Linked DNA regions of Homo sapiens: region 2 is linked to region 1. The links come from fine-mapping of genetic effects on gene expression. Tissue or cell type: whole blood. Region 1 holds a variant in brackets; the other region holds the start of a gene. All regions are shown on one strand. Distances are between the middles of the regions.

Evidence for each region. PIP is the estimated chance that this variant, and not a neighbour inherited with it, causes the effect.
Region 2: FGD5-AS1 starts here. The variant in region 1 is fine-mapped to the expression of FGD5-AS1 in whole blood (INTERVAL, PIP above 0.99).

The regions. Positions count from the first base shown.
Region 1 is chr3:14,997,404-15,000,085 of GRCh38, reverse strand. The region is part of intron 1 of NR2C2 (nuclear receptor subfamily 2 group C member 2); the gene reads right to left. Among named protein-coding and RNA genes, the nearest start is that of FGD5-AS1, 50 kb to the right of the region's middle. The variant G/A (reference allele first, on the strand shown) is at 1,132.
Region 2 is chr3:14,946,906-14,949,587 of GRCh38, reverse strand. FGD5-AS1 (FGD5 antisense RNA 1) reads left to right here and starts at 1,147. Exons shown (of 2, transcript NR_046251.1): 1 at 1,147-1,575. NR2C2 (nuclear receptor subfamily 2 group C member 2) reads right to left here and starts at 2,005. Exons shown (of 14, transcript NM_001291694.2): 1 at 1,682-2,005. RefSeq lists enhancers at 101-788, 1,143-1,342, 789-1,476, 2,165-2,682 and silencers at 943-1,002, 1,393-1,812, 1,833-1,902, 1,953-2,382.

The DNA of each region.
Region 1 (2,682 bases):
ATACAGTTAATAATAGCCTATTGTACATTTCAAAATTGCTAAGAGTAAATTTCAAATGTTCTCATGGCAAAAATAAGTATTTAAGGTGATGGATATGTTAATGAGCTTGATTTAATTTTTACACATTGTAGTCACGGATCATAACATCACTTTGTACTGTAAATATATGCAATATAAACTCAATTTGTAACTTAAAAAAATTGCAGTACCGGCATAAAGACAAGACATACAGACCAATGGAATATAACAGAGAATGCAGAAATAAACCCTCACCTATATGTTCAAATTTGATAAAGGTGCCACGATAATTCAATAGGCAAAGAACAGTCTTCGACAAATGGTGATGGGACAAGTGGAAATCAAATGCAGGGGAACAAATCTGGACACCTACCTTGCACTATTACAAAAAAAAAAAATCAAAATGGATCAAAGATCTAAATGTAAGAGTTAAAACTATAAAACTCTCAGAAAACACAGGTGTAAATCTTCGTGAACTTGAATTAGGTGATTGTTTCTTAGATGACACCAAAAGCAAAAATAGCACAAGAAAAATTAGAAAATAATCATTAAAACTAGAAACTTTTTTTTTGGGGGGGACAAGATCTCTTACTCTGTTGCCTGTGCTAGAGCGCAGTAGCACAATTATGGTTCACTGCAGCCTCATCCTCCTGGGCCCAAGCAATCCTCCCAACCTCAGCTTCCTGAGCAGCTAGGATCACAGGTGTGTGCTACCATGCCGGGCCAATTTAAATTTTTTTTGTTTGTTTTTGAGACGGAGTTTCACTCTTGTTGCCCAGGCTGGAGTGCAATGGTGCGATCTCGGCTCATCGCAACCTCTGCCTCCTGGGTTCAAGTGATTCTCCTGCTTCAGCCTCCTGAGTAGCTGAGATTATAGGCATGAGCCACCACACCAGGCTAATTTTGTATTTTTAGTAGAGACAGGGTTTCTGCATGTTGGTCAGGCTGGTCTCCAACTCCTGACCTCAGGTGATCCACCCGCCTGGGCCTCCCAAAGTGCTGGGATTACAGGCGTGAGCCACTGCACCTGGCCTTAAAAAAAATTTTTTTTTTGTTTTTTGAGACACGGTCTCACTCCTGGATGCCCAGGCCAGAATGCAGGGGCACAATCTT[G/A]GCTCACTGCAGCCTCAACCAACCTCCCAGGCTCAAGTGATCTCCCTACCTCAGCCCCCCATGTAACTGGGACTATGGGCGTGCGCCACCTAATTTTAAATATTTTTGCAGAGATGAGGTCTCCCTATGTTGCCCAGGCTTGTCTCCAACTCCTGGCTCATGTGATCCTTCCTCCTTGGCCTTCCAAAGTGTTGGGATTACAGGTGTGAGCCAGCGTACCTGAACTCAAATTAATGAGTTTTGTGTTTCAAAAGACACCATCAAGGAAGTGAAAAGACAACCTATAAAATGGGGGAAAAAAAAAGTGCAAATCATATATCATTACAACTTAATAACAAGACAAAAATCCCAATTTAAAAATGAGCAAAGAGTTAAACAGAAATTTCTCCTAGAAGATATACAAATGGCCAATAAGCACAGGAAAAGATGTTCCAAGGTCATTAGTTAGGGAAATGCAAATCAAGACCATGATGAGATACCACTTCATATCCACTAGGATGGCTACAATGTTAAACATGGACAATAACAAGTATTGGTGAAAATGTGGAGATGGGAACCTTCATACATTGCTGGTAGTAATGTAGAATGGTACAGTTACTTTGGAAAACAGTCTGGTTGTTCCTCAAAGGGTAAACACAGAGTTGCCATATGACCCATAATTTCACTCCTAGGTATATACTCAAGACAAAGAAAAACACATGTCTACACAAAAGCTTGTATACAAATGTTCACAGCAGCATTAGTGATAACAGGCAAAAAGTAGAAACAACTCAAATATCTCCCAAATGATGAATGGATAAATAAAACATGGTATATCCATGTAATGGAGTATTATTTGGCAATAAAAAGGAATGAAGTGCTGATACATGCTACAACATGGAAGACTCAGCCACGAAAGACCACCATATATTGCATGATTCTATTTATTTAAAATGTCCAGAATAGGCAAATCCATGGGGACAGAAAGTAGATTAGTGGTTGCCAGGTGACAGGGGAACAGGGGTAGCAAGAATAATTGCTAAGAGATGTGGGTTTTTTAGTGGGGGCATGATAAAAACATTCTGGATTTAGATAGTGGTGATGGTTGCATACTCTTGTGAATGTACTAAAACCCACTAAGCTGTATATTTTTAAAAAATGAATTTTATGGTATGTGAATTATATCTCAATTTGATAAAATATTATCAATTAATTCATTACTGGGCTATTAAATTTTTTTTTCTTTCATAAGCATACATTTTAACAACAAATTCACTACAATGAAGTCAACAGAATCCAGTATTTTTACAGTGACTTTTAGCTTAAAAAATATGGATTAGCTCTCTCTTGGCTAAGAAATAGGCAGGACAAGCACAACCATTTTATAGGAGGTATGGTGAGGCTGAGATCCTGCAAGGTATGTCTCCCAGGATCCATGTACACATAACTGCTAGCTCTGTTTATTTATAACTGAAAAGAAAAGGCTGGCCAATCACTTTATCAGAGCATATTCATTGCATCCTTTAATAATGAACATTTAAAATTTTGGTTGAGTCTATTAGTCTGCAAGTT
Region 2 (2,682 bases), 50 kb after region 1:
TCCCAAGTCATGTATTCATCAGTAATTCATATGAAGGCTGTATTTTCCTCGACTTTCTTATTACATTGAAGATTTGTTCCTCACTACCGTTGCTATATTTCACAGCCTTTGGCTTGGAAACAAAGTGGGATAATGGACAATTACTAGTTCCAACCAACTCTCCAGCCACAAGCAGCCAGTTCTCGATCACATCAAATGCTCTTCCTCCAGGGCCGTTACACGGGATGTCCTGTCTGGAATGCCATTCCTCCCTTGGGTTCCTCTGTTCAAACATCACTTACTCAGAGAGGCCACCCTGACCATTCCATCTAAATTAACGCCTCAGGTCTTCTTCAGCAGGTCATTTGGCTTCTTTTCTTTCACAGAACTTATGACTCTCTGGAATTATTTGTCTATTCACCCCCCAGCCCCCAACTCTAGTGAGGGCAGGGGTCTTGTACAGCTGGTTCTCCAGATGTGTCCCCAGTGCCTAAAAAACTAAGTCAACATGTATTCAGCGAACGAATGAGAAGAGAATCACTCCCGAATTGTGCTCTCTCAAACCCCAAATACCCTTAACGCTTGCCTCTCCTGGTGGCTGTAATCCCATTTTTAACAATAACACCATTTTCAAGTGACTCTGAAGCTCGCAAAGTAGCGTTGCCTCCATTTTCTGAGTAGAGCCCCACAAACAATGCTCAGAAGGGAGGTCCGGCCTGGCAAGAATGCGCATGCCCCCCATTTACAGTCGATAAAATTGAGCCTCATTAGGGGATTCGCCAAGGCCGCTGCGAAATAACGAGCAGGAGCCCTGAAAAGTGTCCTGGTTCCGAAAACCTCTTCCCACGAGAGCGCATCGTGGACTCGAAATGCTTCATCACCTTTATTACTATTGTTCCTCAGTACTCATTCGAGACGCGTTCCAGGCGGAGGGAAGCAGCCCACCTGCTGACCCAAGACCAGGCGCCGGCCTCTCCACCCGGCCGCGCCCCTCGCGCCCCGCCCCCGGCCCCGCCCCCGCCGACCCGGCCCCACTCTTCGCCCCGGCCTCTACTCCCGCCCCGCCAGGGCTCCCGCGCCCCATAAGGACCACCCTCTTCCGCCTCAGCCAATCAGCAAAGCTTAGGGGGGCGGTGCCACAGGCCCCGGCCCTCCTATCTGGGCGCCAATTAGCCAGCCCATCCGTCGCTCACGAGGTCGCGCCTCGCACCCGCCTTCCTCCTTTTCTTTTACCCTCCCCTTCAGAAAAAACGGCGGTTGGGCTGCGACGGCCGCCAAAGGCGGACTAGAAGCGGAGGGGTGAAAATCCCGGCAGAGAAGGAAGAAGGGACTGCAGGCGGGAGGAGGAGGAGGATAAGGAGGAAGGGAGCCCGCCCAGCCGGAGCCATCTCCGTCGAGAACAAAATGGCGGCGCTGGCGGAGGGCCAACTATAAGGCGGGGCCGCGGCCATTCCCCCTCCACCCCCACCCTTGCGCCGGCCGGGCCGGTCAGGGGGAACCCGCTCGCTTCGCCCGGCCGCGGGCGGGGAGGGGAGGGGAGCGGCCCGGCCCACTATGCAAAGCGCCGGGCGCCGCCGCCGCCACCCCGTGGCAAAGGTAAAAGGGTCGGGTTCAGCCGCCGCCGCGGCGCCTCCATGTCCGCGCGCCAGGCCCGCCCCCTCCGCCGCCGGCCCGAGCCCGCCCGACCCTCTTTCAATTTTACCTCAGGATTTGGCGCCAAAGCGGCCTCGAAGCGGGTCCCGTGTCTGCGGCGGGCGGCCCCCGGCGCGGAGGGCAGGGCGCGGGGAGCCCGGGCTCCCGGTGTCGGCGGATGGCGGGAGCCCGGGGGCCGCGGGCTCGCGGGGCAGCGGGCGAGAGACGAGACGCCGAGGTGGGAGCGGGGTGGCGGGGACGGGCCCGGGGGCGCCGCCGGGGTCGCGGAGAAGGGGGGGTTTGTTATTGTTTTTGTCAGTGAAAGGTCAGAGTTCGTGACCCCGGTGCCGCCGCCGCCGCCGCCCGCGCGCTGGTAGGAGGAGGGCGAATGTTCTTCTTCCTCTTCCCAGCGCCAGCCTCGCCGCCGCGGCGGGGGGCGGGCGAGAACGCGATTGGCTGAGGCGCGCGCGCGCACCGGAACGCCGCAGCCGGCGCTCGGTCCATCCGGCCCGTGGGCTGTGGGGCCCCGGGCGGCGGCGGCTACGTAGCTGCCGCCGGCCTTGGCCGCGGCCGGGCGGGCGGATATGTGGCTTAAATGGCGCAGGCGTCGGGGCCTAGAGGCTGAAGGGCTGGTCGTCCTAAAAACTCGTGGACGTCGCGCACGGTTACCCGGACGCAGGCCCGCCCCTCTGGGGAACCGCGAGCTCCTCGCAGCTGGGTGGGGACCGTCCTCGCAGTGGCGGCCTCCACCCTGCCTTCTCGCTTAGCCAAGGCTTCTGGAAGGCTCGCAAAGTGTCTGTTGTTGGAAGAAGCCGGGCCCTGACTGGCGCGACGGATTCTCCCAGCCGCTCAGCAGAGCGTCTGTAGGTCGGAAGTGGGGGTTGTATTGGGTGGGTATTGAGCTCTTCGGCCCTTCCTCGGTACTGATAGTTTTTAATTTAGGTTTTAAAGGTCTAAAGATGCGCCCGTTCTGGCCATCTCAGGTGAAATGTTGAAACGCCCCAGAACCTATAATTTTTGGTTTCTTAGTAAACATACGATCCAGATCTTGTGTAATTCCATGCCCCTCCT